7 linked regions of the Homo sapiens genome follow. The protein of the gene in region 1 interacts with the protein of each later gene in a biochemical or structural test. Each region holds a gene or a part of one and is shown in the gene's direction. Other genes may lie near its edges. The genes, in order: UBA1, UBE2E2, UBE2J2, UBE2N, UBE2D4, UBE2S and UBE2Z.

Region 1 (2,400 bases):
AGATCTGGTTCTGATTCACGTCATACCCTGTCACCAGGTGAGGGTTTCTGTCTGTGTACCTACCCTTTTTGTGTATCCTTTTTCACTTATTCATTAATCACATTATTTGAGTACGTGCGAAAAGATGGGATATTTGAATTGTGCCCTGGGAGATTATTAGTAACTACACAATAATGGCAGCCAAAATTTATTGGACGCTTCCTACACTTAAGTGCTTTGCTTGCTTCATTAATGAATTCACTCAAATATTTATTGAGCACCTTTTGTGTGCAGGGACTCTTCTAAGTTATGTTCCTCAAGTAGATTATATAAATAACCTATTAAATGATTTTGGAATCAAAAAAGGATAAAAAGAGGCCGGGCGTGGTGGCTTACGCCTGTAATCCCAGCACTTTGGGAGGCCGAGGCACGTGGTTCACCTGAAGTCAGGAGTTTGAGACCAGCCTGGCCAACATGATGAAACCCTGTCTCTACTAAAAATACAAAAAATTAGCCAGGCGTAGTGGTAGGCACCTGTAATCCCAGCTACTCGGGAGGCTGAGGCAAGAGAATCACTTGAACCCGGGAGGCGGAGGTTGCAGTGAGCCAAGATGGCGCCATTGCACTCCCGCCTGGGTGACAGAGCGAGACTGCATCTCAAAAAAAAAAAAAGATAAAGAGGACTTGAGAATACCAGGGGGCGAGGGGATGTATTTGAGATTTTGTGTAGGATGGTCAGAAAAGGCCTTGCTGAAAAGATGACATTTGAGATCAGACTTGGAGGATGTAAGGGGACAAACTGTGCAGGCTTGGTGGCGAGTGGGGACACATTCCAGGCAGAGGGACCAGTTCTTGAAAGGGTACCAAGATAGGGGTGTGCCTGGCAAGTTGGAGGAATTCAAAGTCCCCAGAGTGAGTGTGAGATTGAGGAGGGTAGGAGATGAGAAGAAAACAGAATTTCATTGCTTAGGGTGAGATAGGAACCACAAGAGGATTTCGAACAAAAGAGGGTTGTGATCTGACTAAACACGTCTGCATGGGGGTAGGGGGGATGGAGACAGATGGGGGCTGGACCCTCTGGGATGGTCTCCATCTTACACTCCCCTCTTTGTCTTGCAGTACTATAACCAAGAGTGGACATTGTGGGATCGCTTTGAGGTACAAGGGCTGCAGCCTAATGGTGAGGAGATGACCCTCAAACAGTTCCTCGACTATTTTAAGGTAAGGCCCCTCCCTTACTCTGTCACCCCACCTCAGGGGGCGAGGTGTACACGGTGACTTGCTGGCCTGTCCACCTCCATGACCCTGCTGTTCCCCCTCCCTCTCCAGACAGAGCACAAATTAGAGATCACCATGCTGTCCCAGGGCGTGTCCATGCTCTATTCCTTCTTCATGCCAGCTGCCAAGCTCAAGGAACGGTTGGATCAGCCGTGAGTTGGACACTGGCCAGGCTAGGGGAGGCCCTGTATGGGTTGGGGAGCCTCATCATCCAGCTGTCCCACTCCAGTTCACTGCCCCTACCTACCTGCCCATCCTCTCTTGCTTTCTGCCCTCCTGACCCTATACTCCCATCCCCCTATCCCCAGGATGACAGAGATTGTGAGCCGTGTGTCGAAGCGAAAGCTGGGCCGCCACGTGCGGGCGCTGGTGCTTGAGCTGTGCTGTAACGACGAGAGCGGCGAGGATGTCGAGGTTCCCTATGTCCGATACACCATCCGCTGACCCCGTCTGCTCCTCTAGGCTGGCCCCTTGTCCACCCCTCTCCACACCCCTTCCAGCCCAGGGTTCCCATTTGGCTTCTGGCAGTGGCCCAACTAGCCAAGTCTGGTGTTCCCTCATCATCCCCCTACCTGAACCCCTCTTGCCACTGCCTTCTACCTTGTTTGAAACCTGAATCCTAATAAAGAATTAATAACTCCCACATCGCCTGCCCTGCTGGTTCCAGGGAAGGAAGGGACTTCCTGGAGCTGTCTGGTTCAGATGATAACTCAGAGGGCTCAACCCCACCACACCTGCCAGTTTTCTGGACAAAGAAAATGTAATTGCCACCTCTTCCTGCCCTCTCTGCCTAGGAAGAGATGGAGGCACCAGTGAGGCCATAGTGAGCAGGTACTTGGGTCCATGTGACTGTTAATTTGAGCTGGGTTCAATTCTCACCTTCTCCATGTCCTAACTCCTTGCTCTGTGAAGAGGAAAGTTACGGTGACCAGGCTGCTAGGGCATGGCCAGCGTGCCTTATGTCCTTAGGGCAGATCCCCTCCCACCTGGCTCAAAGCACTCAGACCCTGGGCAGCCTTTTGTGGTCATGGTTCCCAGCACCAGGAATGCCTGTGCTGCTCTTAGTTCAATTTCCTTGCTGCAGGGGTGTCTTAAACAGCTCTGCCGAATGCCAGTGCCTGCAGGCATACTTCGTGATTTTTA
Region 2 (3,500 bases), on another chromosome or scaffold:
ACAACTCAGGGTTTAGAGGTACCAGCCCCCTGTGCCATCAAAAATTCATGTATAATGTTTGACTTTCTCCAAATTTAACTACTAATAATACCCTACTTTTGACAAGAAGCCTTACTCATAACATAAACATTTCAATTAATACATATTTTGCATGTTATATGTATATATGCTGTATTCTTACAATAAAGTAAGCTAGAAAAAAGAAAATATTAAGAAAGTCATAAGGAAGAGAAAATGCATTTACAGTATTGTACCGTGTTTATTGTTACCCTGAGTTTACATCATCTGTTTACAAGGTGAAATGGCAGCTAACCACAACTACAGACCTCAATCTACAGTGTATATCAAGTAATTCAACTTTTTCTTGTAATGGCATGACTTTTCTCTGCTTCTTGGGACTACTTCCAGAATCACTAGTGGCCCTTCGTATGGATCCCATGGTGTTATTTAAGGTTTACGGTATTGCACAAACACAATGAAAAATATGCGAGAACTGAGAGAGAGCACTTTTTATGGCAATACGCAATTTGCTGGAGAGATGAACTGCTCATGCAGAGATGATTTTTGTCACGTGGCATTTTAGGCATTTTAAGCAGCTATTGGCAATAGCTGAGTTCATTGCAATAGCAACAGGAGGTGGCTACAAAATTATTACAGTAGTACAGTATGTATTATAGTTACTTTTATGCAGTTATGATTTAATACTCTATGTTTGTGTTTGCTTACATTTCTTTTAAAATGCTCATGGCATCATGTATGGTTTGTGGGTATAATTTTAACTTTGTAAGAGATCGGTATATATTTTCTGGTAGTAAATAAGAAAAACTAATATCTGTGTATATTTTGTGCACTCATGACGTTCCTTTTTCTTAATTTTTCAATATTTCTAGGCTAGTGCGTTGTCAGCGAGTTTTTTCAAATTGTCACAAATCTCAAATTTTTCTAATGTATTTTCTTGAAATTTAGTTCATCTAAGTTGACCCACGCAATGCAGACCCTGTTGTTCAGGGGTCAACTGTATATTCAACTTAACTAGATGAGCCTATATTCTCATCCGAAGGAATTACTCATACTCATCAGCAGTACATAGGAGTTCTAGTTTTTCCACATCCTCATCAACATGTGGTTTTGTCAGGCATTGATTTTTGCATTTGCATTTTGTAAAATAATATTACTGAATTTTGATTTTCAGTTTCATTTCCCCGATTTTGATGATATTGAGCATTTTTCATATGATTATTGGCCATTTATGTTTCCCTTTTTTTGGAAATGTCTATGTCTTTTTTAATAGAGTCTTTTTTTAGTTGATTCTTAGGAACTTGTGTATTCTCAACACTAGTATTTGGTCACTTTTATATGATCCAAATATCTTTTCTGTTTGCAGCTTGCCTTGTCACTCTCTTCAGTCAAACTCTAATATTTTGACTTTTGCATTTAAATATTTAATCCATCTGCAACAGCATTTGTTTATTTACTGAGGGTAAAAATCCAGTTTCTCTGTTTTTCAAATATAAAAACTTTTCCTAGTCCCATCAGTTGACATAAATCAGGTTTTCATATATGTGTGGAAAAGTTTGAGGAATTTCTTTGAGCTTCCGAAAAAATTTTAAAATCAACTTGTCGAGTTTTGGTTTTAAAAAGCAGTTGGACTTTTTAATTGGAATTATGATGAATCAATTTGGAGAAACTGACATTTGATATCAGGTCTCCCTACCCATAAACTTGGTATCTCCCTCCATTTATTTAACTCTTATGAGTACTTTTCAATAAGTTTTATATAATTTTCTCCATAAAGATCTTACACATCTTTTATGACTTTATTCATAGCTTCCCTACAAGACCTATTGCAACTCATTTAAAAATACATTTTCTAGGGGCCAGGTGTGGTCCAGTGATGCATGCCTGTAAACCCAGCTACTTGAGAGGCTGAGACCCAAGAATGGCTTGAGCCCATTCTTAGGATTAGCTAAATCCTAATCTCATTTTGCCCTTCTTTTCACCTGAGAGAACTAATACAATTCACTCGACTCATGTGGGCCATATTGTTTTCAGCAAAATTCTCTGAAACTCAGAGACATGTGTACTGCTAGTAGCCATGTGGCTTCTTCACTTGCTTTGTTATTAATTCATCATCATCCAACATACTGACTTAAGAGGCACTAAGGACAAGGTACAACCTGTTCCTCAAGCACCTTCTAGGGAGGGTAGAAAGAAGCATTAGTTGCAAAACACAGTTATAAAACAAAATGATACATCTTATCCTCTACAGACCTCATTGGTCATGATGTATGGGTCAGGAAGTCCTTTGGGTGGGGAGAAAGAAAGGAAGATTCAGATGGGATATGATATTTGAGCAGAGACTTTGGATGATGAACATTGAACCTCCTTTGTGTTCTCAGTTGTTAGCAAAGGGATCAGACTAGTCATTCCCCAGAGGTCCTTCTAACTTTGAAATTTTGTCTCTGACATCACAAATAATTTCATGCTTTCATTAAACATTTGTGTTTCTACCTCTGGCCTGTAGTCCTTGGACTCTTGTTCCATAGGCGTAGGGTTGTGAATGGCAAAAGAGGATCTTGGTGTTCTTTTATGAAGTGATACCAACATATTTCACTTCTAGGATAATGACAATATTGGCAATATGAATCTTAACATGAGAGTTAACTGATTAACTTTTTGTGTTTTTATGGAATTGCTCAATTGGTTATCATAAATAGATTTTGTTAAATTCCAGCCTTTATGTAATTTCTAAGCACATTTCATTTGTATGTCTTATTTCAGTGCTGGACCCAAAGGAGACAACATTTATGAATGGAGGTCAACTATATTGGGACCCCCAGGATCTGTCTATGAAGGAGGGGTGTTCTTTCTTGACATTACCTTTTCACCAGACTATCCGTTTAAACCCCCTAAGGTCAGTATGAAGTTTTCATTGATTTTTAGCAATATGGATTATATTTCTAGATACATATACTTATTCTTAAATATGCATTCTAGGGATGCATGTCTATTCTGTTGTCACAGACAGCTTCCCAGGATTGATAGTGTATAAAATGAAACAATGTAAAAAATTGTAGGTTATTCCTCCACCCCAGCTTTTTACTGATTTCATTGTTTTTTTTCTCCTCCTTTTTCTCCTCATTATCTCCTTTCTTTGTTATATGTTTTAATGTAACATTAAAACACCATGTTTTATGGGTGAAAATGGGGGCATAAGGTTGGGCCAGGGTGAGTACCAGAGCCCAGAAAATCAGACGTAGCCTGGAGCCAGAGCCCAAGCAAGCTAAGCGCAAGAATCAGGCTAAAGGCAGAGGAAGCCTTGCCTAGGCAAGGTTTATAGCACCAGCTATGGAGGTTTGAGTTTTGGTGCCTCTAGAGTTCAGCTGCTCACATGTAGCACACATGGACTAGTATGGAAAGTATGACCCACAGAGACTTAAAAGTTGTGTTAAAAAATTTCGTAAAGTATTTATAATAGTTCATTAATGAAACTAATCAAT
Region 3 (3,500 bases), on another chromosome or scaffold:
CACCCGGCTAACTTTTTTTTTTTAAATAAAGGTGGGGTCTTGCTATGTTGCCTAGGCTGGTGTCAAGCTCCTGGGCTCAAGCGATCTTCCACCGTGCCCTCCCAAAGTGCTGGGATTACAGTCTTCAAGTACATCTTAGTAATGTACTGTGAAATTAAAATTTATTTAAGATTTCAGTTATTATTAAGATGAGCTTCGTGCATGTTATATTGTCGAAACAAAGGTACTTTATGGTAAACTTATAAAGTATAGTCTCTAAGATCCTGTTACAAGAGACTAAAAGCACCCACGGTAGAAGAGACGGGGGTTTTGAAGCCGTGTGGCTGTGTGACATTTCACCTTCATTTGTTCACTGCCTGAATGTGAATGTAATTTTGGCTGGGTTCTATAAACCCCAGGCTTGGAATGATTCAGATTTTGGAGAATTTGCTGTCCTCAAATCCCAAGTAATTTTCTTCTCTCCCTTAGGCACTATGTCGTCCGAGGCCCAGAGATGACCCCTTATGAAGGTAAGGATTCTGTGCTTAGGAGAAGAACACCAGGCGGTTTTTATATTCTCAGTCAGCCTTGCCTGTTCAACATCTTTTATTTGCAAACAGCAGCCTTTCTACTTTGGATGTGTGCTAGTTAAATTGGCTTAGTTGGAACTCCTCCTCGTCTGCTTCTCCACACGCTGGAAGTGTTTGCTCTGCTGATGTGTCTCAGCCTGCAGGGCCGCCTGTAGCGTCTGTGTTCACCAGCCTCTGACACCATAGGGCCATAGCTGAGAAAACCAGACCGGGGTAAACACTGAAGCTGGCCTGTTCTACTATTTCTTAAGACCCAGTGCATATCATCAAAGGAAAGGCACATATATTCAGTTATTCAGTGTGCCTTCTGTGCTGGGCGCCCCCAGGGTTTCGCAATCCCCAGGACGGTCTCTGAGCTAAGTGGAAGTACCCCTGTGTGGTGGCACCTGGGGCTTCGGTAGGCTGCAGGACCTGTCCAGCACCTCAGCCCTTCATCGACTACCAAGGCTGATCCAGCAGCCTGACCCCTCCAGGTCAGCAGACACCACCTAGAGACCTAGTGTCATTTATAGAGAAGATGCTGGAGCTGTCAGTAAGTTTCTGGGGCCTTTGGCGGAGGCTGGCGCCAGCCTCGATCTGGACCAGGTCAGTAGTCAGTGTGCCCGTGAATACTGTCCCGCCGGCAAGCACAAGGCAGAGCAGGGCCAGGTCAGCAGTTGCTGTCCAGCCACAGGGCCCCGGCTTCAGGTGGCTGGAGCAGCAGGCTCTGTTTGCCTGTGTGTGGAGGCTTTGGATGAGATTTCACTAGAAGAGAGTGCTGCTGCTAGAAGAAGGTTTGCAACCCCTGCTTTGGACTGTCGGGAGGGTTGTGGGTGGGTAAGAATGAAAAAGGCTCTCCTGAAGGCATTTTGGCCGAGTTAACACAGCCACACCTGTGGACTCTCCTTTGGCCCAGGAATCCCAGTTCTGGATCATCTGCAACTAGGGCAGCCAGAGTGCGGGAGTACATCTGTAGGGTGGGCCCTCCATCATCGTGTCATTGCCCATGACCAGCGTTGGGGATGCCAGCAGGCCGTGGTGAGATAAGGCCCGGGAGCAGGTGTCCAGGGCGTGTTAAAGTACTTGTTACGATGCGTGTGTGTGCCTTCAGCTGATCTGAAGAATATATACCACCGAGTGAGTAGTGGTCGGCCGGGCGCGGTGGCTCACGCCTGTAATTCCAGCACTTTGGGAGGCTGAGGTGGGCGGATCATCTGAGGTCAGGAGTTCGAGACCAGCCTGACCAACACGGAGAAACCCCATCTCTACTAAAAATACAAAATTAGCCGGGTGTGGTAGTGCATGCCTATAATCCCAGCTACTCGGGAGGCTGAGGCAGGAGAATCACTTGAACCCGGGAGGCGGAGGTTGCAGTGAGCCGAGGTCGTGCCGTTGTATTCCAGCCTGGGTGACAAGAGTGAAACTCGTCAGGAGATCCAGACCATCCTTGCTAATACGGTGAAACCTTGTCTCTACTAAAAAAATACAAAAAATTAGCTGGGCGTGGTGGTGGGGCCCTGTAGTCCCAGCTACTCAGGAGGCTGAGGCAGGAGAATCGCTTGAACCCAGGAGGCGGAGCTTGCAGTGAGCCGAGATCGCTGCACTCCACCCTGGGTGACAAGATCAAAACTCCATCTCAAAAAAAAAAAAAAAAACCAAAATGGGTGGTGGTCTTTGACAAGCAAAATTATGCCAGCTTTACATTTTTTTTGTTTGTTTTGTGGTTTTAGTTTTTTAAAAATAAATAGTGAATATTAATTCTGTATCCACACCCAGTCTCCCTCAACTTCACCAGCTAGGTCAGTTGCTGGTGGAGATGAGCTGCTCCCCCAACAGGGCTGGACACAGTTGGGAGAAGAGGGGGCAGCCCCTGGGTGTGGTGCGGCCGTTGCCAGCCCCAACCCTGTCACTTGTGCTTTTATCTTGGTCCCCTCCCATCGCTTCCGTTGTTCCCCACAACCGTGTGTGGCTCTGTGCTGGTCCTGGGTCTCAGGAAAGCCTCCCTTCAGAGAGAGAATGTGTGTTCCTACTGCCCCTCCCATTTCCCTCTATGGCACTGCTGCTCCCGTCCCCGCGGACCTCCCCCTCACTGGGGGATGCCTTTTGCTCTCTGCAGCCCTGCCCTCTGCTCTCCTTCAGGGTCTCCAGGGAACCCCTCCGAATTGCCACTTGCCGAGGGGCTGTTCTCAGTCCTCAGTTTCTTAGCCTCTGGTATCTGATGCTGCTGACGACAGCTTCCTTCCTGACTTCGGGATTTCTGACCCCTTTTCCTGCCTGTGCATTAGCTGCGTCCCCTCCGTGCACTGGGTTCCGTGGCTGTTCTGCCCCTGGTGCTGCCCAGGCGTGCCCACTCTGACAGTTCAGAGCTGGCTTCCTACAAATGTTGCTAAATCATTCCCCTTGAGTGAATCTGTAGATTTCACACAGTCCTAACAAAATCTCAGTTTTTTATACTACACAAGCTACATGCAAAGGCAAAGGACCTAGAACAGTTAAAACCATTTTTCTAAAGAATGAAGTGGAGTCTGTGGTTTCAAGACTTACCCCAGTGATGAGGGTCAGGCAGTGGTAGAGGAGGGACAGGCCATGGGGCAGAGTAGCCAGCTAGGCCTTTGCCTCAGGCTTTTCAGCAGATGGCCTGGGGTGTGGGGATGTTCAAGCTGCCAGGGACCCACTTCAGGACAAGTGGGTGCTTCCTGATTTTCATCTGGTGCTGTGAACGTCTGTGTGTGTGTGGCTCTTGGTGCCTTTGTCTTGGGTTTCTCTGGCGGGTGACAAGCAGTGGGATAGCCGTCTGGGGCTTCCCGATAGGTGTGCGCGCAGTGAGGCAGCAGGGCGCCCGTCTCCCATCCCGACAGGTGTGCGCACGCAGTGAGGCAGCAGGGTGTCCATCTCCCAGCACCCTCTGCGCTCAACTGGCTGTTTCCTGCCGTGTAAGTCACTCTTGCCCAT
Region 4 (3,500 bases), on another chromosome or scaffold:
GAGGCAGAATTTGGATCTTGATTAGTGTAACATTCCCCTGTCTCTTGTTACTGTAAAATGACTAACTACAAATACAAGATGATTTTCTGGACTACTATTCACCCAGTTGCTATCTCATTTAGATTCCTGTATCTAATCCAGTAGCAAATTCTGTAGGTTCTGCTTTCAATATATGTACTAAATCAGACACTTTCCCCCCTGTCTTTCAAACCTCTGTTCACTTCCATCATTTACTGCCTGGCCTCCTGTATTAGCCTACTTTGGAGCAGCAGCTAGTGTTATCTTCTTAAAATATAGACCATGTTACTCCCCTGCTAAAAACTGTAGAGGTTCTCCATCACACTTACATTAGAATCTTGCCTTCCCCCCCACCCCTTAGCTATAAGGCCCTGCATTCATTTGGGATGCCTACTTCTGAGCGCATCTGCACTTCTCTCTCTGGGTCACTCCACTGTAGCCACACTGTTGCTTTGCTGTACCCTGAACAATAAGTGGTTGAGCTTATTCCAGTCACAGGACTTTCCTCCAGTTTGTTGCATTGCTTGCTTTGTCCAGTTGTTCCGTTCTTAGCTCATATGTCATACCCTCTACCTAACCTGTCCCGTATAAACCAGTTTCCCTTTTTCCTCCCCCACAATTTTATCCTCCTATCTCCCTTTCTTCTGTATAAGTGCTTATTACTGTTCGAAGTTATGTTATTTACTGTTTATTTCTCTCTATTCCCCATTAAACCTTCATGAAGTTAGGGACTCTTGGATATCCCGGGCATTGCTCATTCGTGCCTAGACCAATCCTTGGCACATAGTAGATACTGAAATATTAATAGACTAACTGAATAGATGAGCCTTAATCTCAATGAGCAATAATTTGACATTGTTACTCCTTGGTATATTCTGTCTGAACCAATGTCTGAGCTAAAAGTTAAAGCTAGTCTCGTTTTCCACCCATAAGCTCACTTAAAAAGGACATCAATCTTTTACATTATTTCTTTTTTGTGTGCCTACTCTGCTTATGTATCTTTTTTTATTAACTAGGAAATGCACACATAGAGCACATTTGAAAGGCTCTGAAGGATACGTAGAGAATCCCTCATCTGTCCTTCAGCATTCCAGTTCCCCTGCTTAGAAAACCACTGTTTTTGTTTGTTTGTTTGTTTGTTGAGACGGAGTCTCCCCCTGTTGCCCAGGCTGGAGTGCAGTGGTGCAATTTTGGCTCACTGCAAACTCCACCTCCCAGGTTCAAGTGATTCTCCTGCCTCAGTCTCTTAAGTAGCTGAGACTGCAGGCATGTGCCACCACACCTGGCTAATTTTTAGTAGAGATGGGGTTTCACCATGTTGGCCATGCTGGTCTCAAACTCCTCTTCTCAAGTGATCCACCTGCCTCAGCCTCCCAAAGTGCTAGGATTACAGGTGTGAGCCACTGCACCCGACTTCAACCACTATTTTTATTGTGTATCCTTACAAGAAGACCAGAGCAACTTTCTGCTATAAGTTAGGCGTCTTCTCCTTCTCATGCAAATACCTTGATTCCCTTCTCTTCCCCTCTAACCACCTATGTATCTTCAAGTTGACTTTTTTTTTTTTTTAAGAGACAGACTGCTGCTTTGTTGCCCAGGCTGGAGTGCAGTGGCTTTTCACAGGCGTGATCATAGTACACTATATACATACAGCCTCGAATTCCTAATATCAGGTGATCTCTACCTTCAGCCTCCAGTATCTGGGATTACAGACATGCATCATAGTGTTCTGCTTTGGCTCTTTTTTTTTTCTCAAAGGGCTGTTTAATGGAACCTTATGGTTAGACTTTATTTTATTTTTTCAAATATTGGAAATTTAATACTTTTTCAGTAGAGATGGGGTCTTGCCATGTTGCCTAGGCTGTTCTCGAGCTCCTAGGCTCAAGTGATTCTTCCACCTCGGCCTCCCAAAGTGCTAGGGTTAACAGGCATGAACCACCGTGCCTGGCCTAGACTTTATTGTAACTAATTGCTTATTCATAACTTTCAGAATGTTTCCTAAATTGTGCTATATAAAAAATGCTGTAACGAAGTTTTGTATGTATGGCATTTTGCACAAGTGTGAGTGATATTGAGTCTTAGTAGTTCTGTTTTAAGCTAGAATCTTTAGTTTCGTTTTTCTGCCTTATCTTCTGGACCAAAGCTCTTTTAGCCAATAAAAGTGACTGAAGCTGGGCATGGTGGTTCACACCTGTAATAACAGCTCTTTGGGAGACTGAGGCCCAAGGATTGCTTGAAGCCAGGAGTTGAGACCAGCCTGAGGAACATAGTGAGATCTCCATCTCCACCAAAAAAAAAAAAGTGAGCAGTTAAAGCTTAAAGTCATAAAGGTTAGGAGGTACCTAAAATGTCCCTCAAATGAGAGGTTCTGCATAATCCTGTCATAAAGGAGAATCACTTTCGGGAACCGATAAGTGAGATCTATAGTTATGGCCTTGGTCAAAACCAAATCTGTTTCAGCTTTACATGTTACGTTGATACAGTGACTGACATTCCTTTAATGGTCTTTTCAGAATTAATCATGAGGGCTGAGCACTGTGGCTCATGCCTATAATCTCAGTACTTTGGGAGGCTGAGGCGGGAGGATCCCCTGAGCCCAAGGTTTCAAGACTGGGCTGTACAACATAATGAGACCTTGTCTCTACAAAAAGATAAAATGAAAATTAGCCAGGTGTTGTGGCACACATCTGTAGTCCCAGCTACTCAGGAGACAGGTGGGAGGATTGGTTTGGCCCAGGAAGTTGAGGCTGCAGTGAGCCTAGATCGCGCCACTGCACTCCAGCCTGGGCGACAGAGTGAAACCCTGTCTCAAAATAGTAATAATGATAATAATGAAAATGATAAAATACAGTCTTGGGAAAAAGTAGTTAACTTACCCTAGGGGTTGACTTATTTGATTAAAACCTAGTGAGTCAACCTGCTGGAATTAGAATTTTACCAGTCTTTCGCAGAATTTACTTTATGTCTCCCTTCCCCACTGGTCCCTTGTCTATGGTGCTTAAAAATTTACTTAAGAAAATACATTTAATTAATTTTTTGAAACAGGGTCTCTGTCACCCAGGCTGAAGTGCAGTGGAAAAATTTACTCTTCTATTTGGTGTGATTTAGCCTCAAATTCTTAAAAATCAGATACAGTCTGATTTTACATTGAGACTTGAGTTTACTTTTTTAATAGGATTTTTTGAAGTACACACATTTTTTCCTGTTACTGTTTAAAAGCCACTCATTTGATAGGTATTCTAGTGCATAAGGTATTTTTTTTTGTAAGAAAAGTGATTTAGAAAACTCACCTTTTATTTATTTGAGACGGGAGTCTTGCTTTGTTGCCCAGCCTGGAGTGCAATGGCACAATCTCGGCTTACTACAACCTCTGCCTCCCAGGTTCAAGCAGTTCTCCTGCCTCAGCCACTGGAGTAGCTTTACTCTCTGCCTTGAACATTTTTTTTTTCTTATTTTGAGATGAAGTTTTGCTTTTGTTGCCC
Region 5 (3,500 bases), on another chromosome or scaffold:
TGGAATGTGTGCCATCCAGTTCCCCTCCTGGGGGCAACAAATGTTAAAGTATATATATATATATATATATATATATATACACACACATATATATACACATATGTATGTGTGTATATATATAACATATATACACACATATATATACACATATGTATGTGTGTATATATATAACATATATACTTATATGTGTGTATATACATATACGTACATATATATGTGTGGGTGTATATATATATATATTCTACCTATTCATGTAATTGTAGTTAACATTTTTGTGGATTTCTTTTCAGTGCCTTTGATGTGTATGTGTTTCAGATTGTTGTCATGTAGTGCATCAAATTTTATACTCTGCTTTTTTCTTGCCCTTTTCCTCTAATGTTGTATCATGACATTTTCTCCTGTTATTCTGTAGTCTTTAAAAACTAATTTTCAGTGGCTGCATAATACTTGGTTTAGTTTCTCAAAAAAAAGTTTAGTTAACTTCTGATTATAAAGGTAGTAATTGTTCTTTAAAGAAACTTGGGGCTGGGCGTGGTGGCTCAGGCCTGTAATCCCAGCACTTTGGGAGGCTGAGGCAGGAGGATCGCTTGAGGTCAGGAGTTTGAGACCAGCCTGGCCAACATGGTGAAACTCATCTCTACTACAAATACAAAAATTAGCTGGGCATGGTGGTGCGTTCCTGTAATCAGTCCCAGCTACTCTGGAGGGTGAGACACCAGAATTGCTTGAACCCAGTAGGCAGAGGTTGCAGTGAGCCGAGATGGTGCCAGTGTACTCCAGTCTGGGCAACACAGTGAGACCCTGTCTCTAAAAATAAAAATAAAAAATAAAGAGAACTTGGAAATAAGATAATACCATATTCATCTACTTCAAGATGAATATTTTTTCAAATGTTCACGTCTCTGAAATTGGGATGCTTCTTACAATAGCTGTCAGCCAGGTTACCTTCACTTAGATGTCACTATCTGTATGAGTAAACCATCATGGCAGTTCATTATGAGGTAAGTGCATTGCTGGTACTATATTTGTTGAGTTTAATTGTTTTAAAAATATTTTCAAAAAGATAGTGTGATTTAGCACTGAAAAGAAAAGCTTTTGTGAACACAGGCACAGAAACAGGACAACGACGAGTAAATTTCATAATAAGGGAGCAAATATTTGTTGTTGGAGGAAGGACTGGAATTTCCTAATTCCATGTCAAGCAACCAAATTCTTCATAGCCACAGAAAGGAAGGTACCACCTACCCTCAAGTTGGTGAGACTGGGTCATTTTTTTTTTTCTGGAATACGTGCAAATAGATTGTGTATCATGGGCCTTTGCAGAATAAGTATTCATGGCTTGAAAGAAAACTCCAGGAAGAGTAGTAGAGGACTCTAAGAATTGCCACATTACCATTGTTTTGGAAGACACAGAGGATGATATTGTGTAGACATCAATGACTCAGTGTTGGGCTCTGAATGGGAAGAAACTTTAGGAATACCTGAACAAACCAGTTTATTTATTTCACTTGTTTTTCCTTTTTTTTTTTTTTGTATTCATGAATGATACTTAACAAGAAACACACAAAGCTATGTTTAAGCCTAAAATAATTCTTTTGATAAAAGTAATTTTAATTTTTTAATTTTTTGAAACAGAATCTCACTCTGTCACACAGGCGCAGTCTTGGCTCACTGCAACCTCCACCTCCCGGGCTAAAGCAATTCTTTTTTTTTTTTCCCACAAGAAGAAAAAGTACATTTTATTTAATGACCAAGTACACACACACATTCACACACATGCATATGTACATATAACTAAAAAAAATATTTTTTCTCATCACATGGGATGCATTGTGAAATATTCTACATTCTTTCATTTAAAGAAAAATGCTGGTCACGTTTTAGTAAAAATCTTTCACAAATCACTAATATGTTACAATGCATAACTGCTCTAGAGCATTAACAATGCTAAGCTATAATTTTAGGGAAATATATAGTGGTGCTCCTTCTTAGAATTAGCCCATGTGGTATTTTAGGTACTCAACTCAGGGAAAAAAAAAATGTAACATAGCCTTGTTACCATGTATTCAGCCTGGACATGGTACATGCTTTCAGTGAGCTTAAATCACCTATCTTCCTAGGCCCAAGATCTGAGGGAATGACTTCCAACTACGTAACAGGACCCTTTGTCTGTATTATACATTTTATATGTCTTTTTATGTACATTGTTTCACTTGTTCCTCACAACAACCCTGTGAGGTAGGGAGGGGAAAATATCAGTTACGCTTTATAGATAATGAAGTTAAGGTTCAGAGAGGTTAAGTGACTTTCTCAGTTACCTAGTAAAAGGCAGAGACAGAATAAGAACTATTAACTTTTAGGTTGGGGGCCCTTTTCTCTAAACCACATAGCTTTGGAGAGTATATTCTAACCCAAAATATTTTTACTGCTTCATCCTCATTTTCTTATTATTAATTCAACTTTTTACAGAATACCATAAAAGACCTAATTCTAAATTCATCATGCTAAATTTATGCTTCTCTGTAAACTTATGGCCACAGAATACATATTTTTTTTTTTGGAAAGCACTGTCACTTTGGCCCTAAAGGAACATAAGCAATATAAAGGGCCCCAGAGGCCAAGGAAATTGAAGAGAAGTCAGAAGAAGGGATATAAAATGGAATGTGTTAACGGATTTTAGTCCCTTTAAGTTTGCACTTTTGTGAGAGGGTTCAATGGAGAGCTTTAATGCAGATGAGACTTGAAGCTTTTGAAGAAGATCTAAGTCTTGATGAGGTTATTCAAACTCAGATCTTGAACGCATAATGATGATAGGCCATGGTCTTCAAAAACGTGGTACTTGATGCTCTCCCACAGTGCCAGGACTGGAATGTCACAATACATATAGATTCATGTTTTTGTCCATTAATGGTCTGTGGGTTTCTTTAAATGAAGCCCATTTTAGAGTCCATAGATATCAGTGTTCTGCGAAACTGTTGGGGATTGGAGGCTCCCAAAAGACCCCAGATGCTCTGCCCTGCCCATGGCATCACCCTCTAAAGCGATTCTTGTGCCTCAGCCTCCTGAGTAGCTGGTTATAGGCACATGCCACCAAGCCCAGCTAAGTTTTGTATTTGTAGTAGAGACAGGGTTTCACCATGTTGGCCAAACTGGTCTCGAACTCCTGACATCAGGCGATCTGCCTACCTCGGCCTCCCAAAGTGCTGGGATTACCGGCATGAACCACTGTACACAGCCTGATAAAAGTAATTTTTAAATACAATTAAAGTTTATGTGCAAAGAAAGCATTTGTGTTAGTTTATTTGCCAGCATGTTTTTTTTTTCCTAATTGTATGTAAAGTAAAATTGTGTCTTATAAAGGATGGAGTCTTGGAGTTGACGAAACACCGTAAAGGAATAACTGAGTGTGTACCATGGTTTGCTTAACTCTTCTCTACTACTATTCAATACTTTAACTTACTTTCTCTTTTTCGGAACTTCTCACTTTTATCATTGTTACT
Region 6 (2,772 bases), on another chromosome or scaffold:
TCTTAAAATAAAAAAGTAGCCAGACCTGGTGGCATGCCCGTAATCCCAGCTACTTGGCAGGCTGAGATGGGATCACCTGAGCCCAGGAATTGCAGGCGGCAGTGAACTGAGATTGTGCCACTGCACTCCAGCCTGGGTGACACAAGAGACCTTATTTCAAAAAAAGAAAAAAAGAATCCTCCAGTCTGTTGGCAGAGTTGGCGGGGCACCCACCTGCATCACAATCAGACCGTGGAGACTGGACTTTGGGGTGTTGAGGTGCCTTGGGACTCCTGAGTGCCCTGACCCTGTACCCCTCCCTCCACTCCAGAGGGGACCCCATATGCTGGAGGTCTGTTCCGCATGAAACTCCTGCTGGGGAAGGACTTCCCTGCCTCCCCACCCAAGGGCTACTTCCTGACCAAGATCTTCCACCCGAACGTGGGCGCCAATGGCGAGATCTGCGTCAACGTGCTCAAGAGGGACTGGACGGCTGAGCTGGGCATCCGACACGTACTGCTGGTGAGTTCTGGGCTGGGGCTGGGCCTCCTGCCTCCTGCCTCTGGAGGTCTGCTGGTGTCTGAGCCATAGCGCTTTGTTTAGTTTTTCTGAATCAACTCTGAAGTGGTTGAAGGTTTCCACATAAAAATCCATGTTGCTAGCTTTCCTGGAAAGACAAACAGTGCCAGACCCAGGACACCCAAGTACTGTTGAGAAGTGCCCAGGAGCACCTTACTATGCAACGAGTGGTGAGTTTGTATTGTAGGATGGTTTTTCTCTTCTCCCTTTTTTTTAAAAAACAAGGATAGGGTAGGCCAGGTGTGGTGGATCACTTGAGCTCAGGAGTTCGAGACCAGCCTGGCCAACATGGTGAAACCCTGTCTCTACTAAAAATGCAAAAATTAGCCGGGCATGGTGGCACATGCCTGTAATCCCAGCTACTTGGGAGGCTGAGGCAGGAGAATCGCTTGAGCCTGGGAGGCAGAGGTTGCAGTGAGCCGAGATCGCGCCACTGCACTCCAGCCTGGGTGACAGAGTGAGACTCTATCTCAAAAAAAAAAAAAAAATAAGATAAAAAATAAAACAGGAATGGGGTCTCATTTGTTGCCCAGGCTGGTGTCAAACTCCTGAACTCAAGTGATCCTCCCACCTCGGCCTCCCAAAGTGCTGGGCTTATAGGAGCCAGCCACTGCGCCTACCCTGTAGGACAGTTTTCTGACAGGTGGAGGTCAAGGGTCTAGTTAGAAGCTCTTTCTTTCTTTTCTTTCTTCTTTCTTTCCTTTTTCTTTCTTCCCTTTCTTTCCTTTCTTTCTTTTTGTTTTAAAGATACTGGCTCTTTGTTGCCCAGGCTGGAGTGCAGTGGCGCAGTCATAGCTCACTGTAGCCTTGAACTCCTGGGCTCAGGTGATCTTCCTGCCTCAGCTTCCTGAATGGCTGGTATTACACGCATGCACCACCATACCCAGCTAGTTTTTATATTTTTATGGTTTGCAGAGATGGGGTCTCATTAGAGGCTTTTTTGCTAAAGCTGAGCTTACATGCCGTAAAACTCAGTTCCAAAGTATACAGTTCAGTGGTTTTTTAATAGCGATAGGGTTCATAAACCAGTGTTTCTCAGCCAGAGGTGATTTTGCCCCCCAAGGGGTATTATGCATTGTCAGGAGACCAGAAAGGGTTGTCACAACTCGGGGGTGCCACTAGCATCTAGTGGGTGGAGGCCAAGGGTGCTGCCCAAATCCTGCAGCGTACGAGATGGCTCCATGACACAGAATGACCTGGCTGCGGTGTTGCTGAGGTGGAGGCGTCCTGGTCTAGGCTGGTGCTCCAGGCTGCTTACAGCCTGCTGCCTCCCAACCCTTCCCGCAAGCTGAAAAAAAAAAAAGTTAACCAAATTTCTAATGAGTCCCTGGGGCACATGGCAGAGAGGGTGGGGAATTGGGGTTTCCTGCCATGGGGAGGGAGAGGATTGAGCTCCAAGGTAAACAGACCCCAAACCCTTCCCTCCCACATGTACCGCCTCCCTTCCCCTGGGGTGTCATTGGAGGCTGCTGGGGACATTGGCACCGAGCTCCAGGCCTACTTGCTGCTAGGTCAGCATCTGGGCCTGTCAGGGGCTCAGCCAGCAAGAAGAGCAGCCAGACCTGCAGTTTGGGTGCAGTGATGAGAATTAGGGTGGGAACCTGTGTCCTGGTCACCATCAGTGATATCTGCTGAGCATCTGCTGAGCCAGGTACTGTGTATGTGTCATAGTGGCCCCAGGGAGCAAACTGCTGTGGCCAGTTTGCCCAGACCCACTTCAGAGGATCCAGCTGGGGCTGCTGGAGGCCTGGCTGCAGGTCACACCTCTGCACTCCAATTTACCCCTCAGGACGGGCTGTGAAGGGGGTTGAGAGGAATCTCTGGACCACCCTCGAAGTGCACCTCAGCCAGCAGTCCTGGTGTCTTGCCCTCTTGTGTGTGGTCCAACCCAGCTAGAGTCTTAGGCTGTGAACTTCGGATGTCTGATAAAAGACAGAGGTCAGGATTTATGCTGTATCTGGAAAGATGGGGAGCTTTAGAGTCCAACACGCAGGTGTGATTTCCTCAAATCCTGAGGCCCTGGGGAAGTCTCTTCTCTCTGTCCAGGCTGCAGGCCTCACTCGTTGAACCAGAGGGCCTCTAAGGTCATGCTGAACTGCATGGAGGCAAATTCAAAACCATAATAGGACTCAAGTCTGGGGCTCAGGCAAGTAATGGACTCCTGAGAGGGGGCCTTGGCGTTTCCCCCGTTACCCAGCAAGTTCCACGGAGGAC
Region 7 (3,500 bases), on another chromosome or scaffold:
CCTCCTCTCAGAGAGAAAGCTTAATACATAATGTCACATTTCTCTGGCATAGATACCTAGGTTTCTCTGTCACTGAATGCTCTACCCACAGAAGTGCAGTTGCACTTAAACTGATGTTAGAAAGAAATCATATTTCCTAAACCTAATGCTGTTTAAGTGAAACACATAGTTTTCTTACAGTAAATTTCTTACAGTAAAAATTCAGATTTTGTATTGTTGGTGTATCTTTTTTTGTTGTTTTGAATAGATTTCCCTTCATATTTTTTTTTTATGTAGTTAGAAATGTTTTTCCTAGGACATCTCGTCCTCAGTCAAGTACCAGTGTTAATAGCCTAGTACCTGGGGTCCCAGAGTTGATGCCATGTTGAGACCAGTTGAGTTTACTATTCCAAATGACTGAGAGCCAGAATATGACGTAGGGTCTTGCCAGGAGGGCAAGGTGGGAACTATAGACTTAGGCATTGGATTGCCACGTCCCTTTCCTTTTGCTGTTCAAATGCTTAGCAGACCTAAATGCCTAGGAGCCTTTGTGGAAGAAGAAATATAACTGAGTCAGTTCAGGTTTTCCTCCCTTCAGGGGGGGAAATCCTGTTGAAGAATTATGGCTTGAGGGGGAAGAGAATTTAGTGTCGTTTTCAGGACGGCTGATTTTTTTTTTTTTTTTTTTTTTAAACAGTATTGGGGAAAGTTCTGGGACTGGTCTAATGGCTCTGAGTGGACCCTGAGTCTTCCCCATTTTCAGTCATGATGTGCTGCCTGAGCCACATCCTCCACAATAGGTTTGATCCTCTGCAGAGGAAGCAAGCAGATACCCTAGGCATCCATCACACCCCCTAACCCTGCTGTGTTACTGGCACTGGGCTGTGGCCTCCAATCCCTTTCTTCGTCTCCTTTCATCATACTTTCCCTTCGTGCCACATAAATGTAGGGTGGGGTTGCATCATATGCATGTTTGGCCTGGGCAAATCCAAACATATATTCAGTCAAAATCTGTGTCGATTTCTCAAAATTAAAAACGCTAGGGTTATATTTTATAGATAAGCATATTATATTTTTCCACAGTGGTGTTTTATCCATTATATGTAACACTGATCAGGGAGGTCTGCACAAAAAAAAAAAATGCTTTAAGAGAGTTTTAGGGGATACTCAAGAGTGATTTTGACTAGATTCAGTTTTCGCCTTGGGCTCTAACTTTAGAAGTAACCCCTGAGTAAGATGTCATTCCACTGTAATGAGATTTCTTAAAATTCCAAACCTACGTATTAGTATGAGTGAATACAGGATGTTCCTTCTGCATGGTGAGGATATAGAACATGTGTACCAGATTATGGACTCTGCTTCTGGTGTGGGTAGTAGGTGGAGGGTAGCCAGGAGGGCTTGGGGTGGGTCATCACCTCACAATTTTGAGATGGGGTTTTATTTTGCAGATTCATGCATTGATCACAGGCCCATTTGACACTCCTTATGAAGGGGGTTTCTTCCTGTTCGTGTTTCGGTGTCCGCCCGACTATCCCATCCACCCACCTCGGGTCAAACTGATGACAACGGGCAATAACACAGTGAGGTTTAACCCCAACTTCTACCGCAATGGGAAAGTCTGCTTGAGTATTCTAGGGTAAGAGGAGACTTTTAAGTAGCCAAGTCGGTTGTTAGCAGATAATTACTCTAGGTCAGCCTTTATCAACCGGAGTCCCTCATCTGAACTACAGAACACAGAAAATGATTGAGTGACTCTTCTCAAATCTCCTCAGGATGGTATGTGACTAGTATCATTCTAGATGCAGAGGGGAGAAGTTAATTTATTACAGTGGTAACCTTTGAGAAGTGGTTCTCTTAAGAGTGTGGCCCTGAGCATCTGGGAACTTGTAGCCGAGCAGTTTCTGGGGCCCTATCTTAGACCTACAAAAGAAACTCTGGGGTTGGGGCCAAAAATCTGGTTTTTTTGGTTGTTGTTTTTTGTTTGTTTTGAGACGGAGTCTTGCTCTGTCGCCAGGCTGGAGTGCAGTGGCACGATCTTGGCTCACTGCAACCTCTGCCTCCCAGATTCAAGCGATTCTCCTGCCTCAGTCTCCCAAGTAGCTGGGGCTACAGGCGTGCACCACCACACCTAGCTAATTTTTGTATCTTTAGTAGAGACGGAGTTTCACCATGTTGGCCAGGATGGTCTCGATCTCTTGACCTCATCATCCACTCACCTTGGCCTCCCAAAGTGCTGGGATTAGAGGCATGAGCCACCGTGCCCGGCCCAGAAATCTGTTTTTTACAAGCTCTCCAGATGATTGTGGTGCATACTGCAGTTTCAGAACCACTCTCTTGGGGTGTTAAGGCCTTATTTTCTCTCCTGAACAGGTTGAGAAAGGCTGCAGGTCTGTGCCATTCAAGATTTGGGGTGTCTTAATTTGAGTCTTGCAATAAGTTGCTTTGAAGGCAGTGGCGGTGGTGGTGGTGGTGATCATTATGGTTTCATTTTTGTTTTGTTTTGTTTGTTTTTGTTTTGTTTTGTTTTGTTGGTAGAGGCAGGTATCTCACTATGTTGCCCAGGCTGGTCTTGAATTCTTGTCCTCAAGCAGTCGTCCTCTTGTGGCTCCCAAAGCACTGGGGTTACAGGCATGAGCCTCCATGCCTGACCTGATTATAATATTTTAATAATGACAAATGTCTGAGATTGGAAATCACATTAGATATGAAATGAGTTTCTAGTGCATCTTCTTTCTGGATGCTTCTGAGGTTTTGCTTCATAGAGTTCCCATTTTAGTTGCCTTTGGGGGCTGAAAACTCAGTGTGGACATCTTCTCGCATATTTTGGATTGGTGTTTTTATAGTGGTCTGAACTTCTCTGGGACAGAGAACACGTGCAGGTTGAAGTTGAGAAAGTACCCCCAAACTGATTATTCTGTTTTCCTGCTATCCAACATGTTTCCAGGTTTGTGTGAGGGAAGAGCAGCATTTGAAATAAACTTAGAGACATGATTCATTTTTCTAGGACTTGCTCAGACCCAGGGATATGTTCTGCTGTGATTTTGGCAGTGAAGAAGTCTTTTAAAGGAGGTTGTCCTTAAAGAAGTACTTCATCTCGTTAGGGTACTTAATTAATTGTCTTTGCTGGTAGGCTAAAACCCATGATGATAAAGAAATTTAGTCGTTGCTTCTGTATGAAATTTGTTCGCGAAAGCGTGTCTCAAAGTAGGCTCTCCCTCATTGGGTCAATATAAAACTCTTTTGAGATACCAGCCACAGGACAGTGGGGTAAAAGTAGTAGAAGTGTGTTAGGTAGAAAAGGAGAAGCTGCCCTGAAATTGAAAATTTGCCATAAAGAATCACAGAGTAGAAAATTTCAGCCGGGTGCGGTGGCTCACACCTGTAATCCCAGCACTTTGGGAGGCCGAGGCGGGTGGATCACCTGAGGTCAGGAGTTCGAGACCAGCCTAGCCTGGCGAAACCCCGTCTCTACTAAAAATACAAAAATTAGCCAGGCATGGTGGCGCATGCCTCTAGTCCCA

Evidence for each region.
Region 2: of the proteins of UBA1 (region 1) and UBE2E2, one has a biochemical effect on the other in vitro, tested with the Homo sapiens proteins (4 studies listed by BioGRID, with this or other methods).
Region 3: of the proteins of UBA1 (region 1) and UBE2J2, one has a biochemical effect on the other in vitro, tested with the Homo sapiens proteins (2 studies listed by BioGRID).
Region 4: of the proteins of UBA1 (region 1) and UBE2N, one has a biochemical effect on the other in vitro, tested with the Homo sapiens proteins (10 studies listed by BioGRID, with this or other methods).
Region 5: of the proteins of UBA1 (region 1) and UBE2D4, one has a biochemical effect on the other in vitro, tested with the Homo sapiens proteins (4 studies listed by BioGRID).
Region 6: of the proteins of UBA1 (region 1) and UBE2S, one has a biochemical effect on the other in vitro, tested with the Homo sapiens proteins (8 studies listed by BioGRID, with this or other methods).
Region 7: of the proteins of UBA1 (region 1) and UBE2Z, one has a biochemical effect on the other in vitro, tested with the Homo sapiens proteins (3 studies listed by BioGRID).

Annotation. Positions count from the first base shown.
Region 1 is NC_000023.11:47,213,229-47,215,628, forward strand, and holds the end of UBA1 (ubiquitin-like modifier-activating enzyme 1), read left to right. Parts: intron 1-1,098; coding exon 1,099-1,200; intron 1,201-1,308; coding exon 1,309-1,409; intron 1,410-1,565; coding exon 1,566-1,701; 3' UTR 1,702-1,900; downstream 1,901-2,400. UniProt on the Homo sapiens protein: Catalyzes the first step in ubiquitin conjugation to mark cellular proteins for degradation through the ubiquitin-proteasome system.
Region 2 is NC_000003.12:23,496,827-23,500,326, forward strand, and holds part of UBE2E2 (ubiquitin-conjugating enzyme E2 E2), read left to right. Parts: intron 1-2,781; coding exon 2,782-2,914; intron 2,915-3,500.
Region 3 is NC_000001.11:1,260,355-1,263,854, reverse strand, and holds part of UBE2J2 (ubiquitin-conjugating enzyme E2 J2), read left to right. Parts: intron 1-468; coding exon 469-509; intron 510-1,464; exon of another isoform or gene 1,465-1,570; coding exon of another isoform or gene 1,571-1,586; intron 1,587-3,500. UniProt on the Homo sapiens protein: Catalyzes the covalent attachment of ubiquitin to other proteins. Seems to function in the selective degradation of misfolded membrane proteins from the endoplasmic reticulum (ERAD).
Region 4 is NC_000012.12:93,435,448-93,438,947, reverse strand, and holds part of UBE2N (ubiquitin-conjugating enzyme E2 N), read left to right. Parts: intron 1-3,500. UniProt on the Homo sapiens protein: The UBE2V1-UBE2N and UBE2V2-UBE2N heterodimers catalyze the synthesis of non-canonical 'Lys-63'-linked polyubiquitin chains. This type of polyubiquitination does not lead to protein degradation by the proteasome.
Region 5 is NC_000007.14:43,932,936-43,936,435, forward strand, and holds part of UBE2D4 (ubiquitin-conjugating enzyme E2 D4), read left to right. Parts: intron 1-3,500. UniProt on the Homo sapiens protein: Accepts ubiquitin from the E1 complex and catalyzes its covalent attachment to other proteins. In vitro able to promote polyubiquitination using all 7 ubiquitin Lys residues, but may prefer 'Lys-11' and 'Lys-48'-linked polyubiquitination.
Region 6 is NC_000019.10:55,402,017-55,404,788, reverse strand, and holds part of UBE2S (ubiquitin-conjugating enzyme E2 S), read left to right. Parts: intron 1-310; coding exon 311-501; intron 502-641; coding exon of another isoform or gene 642-788; exon of another isoform or gene 789-826; intron 827-1,446; exon of another isoform or gene 1,447-1,657; coding exon of another isoform or gene 1,658-1,846; intron 1,847-2,131; exon of another isoform or gene 2,132-2,199; intron 2,200-2,772. Other genes in the region: RPL28 (large ribosomal subunit protein eL28), read right to left, coding at 1,658-1,846. UniProt on the Homo sapiens protein: Accepts ubiquitin from the E1 complex and catalyzes its covalent attachment to other proteins. Catalyzes 'Lys-11'-linked polyubiquitination.
Region 7 is NC_000017.11:48,911,407-48,914,906, forward strand, and holds part of UBE2Z (ubiquitin-conjugating enzyme E2 Z), read left to right. Parts: intron 1-1,427; coding exon 1,428-1,615; intron 1,616-3,500. UniProt on the Homo sapiens protein: Catalyzes the covalent attachment of ubiquitin to other proteins. Specific substrate for UBA6, not charged with ubiquitin by UBE1. May be involved in apoptosis regulation.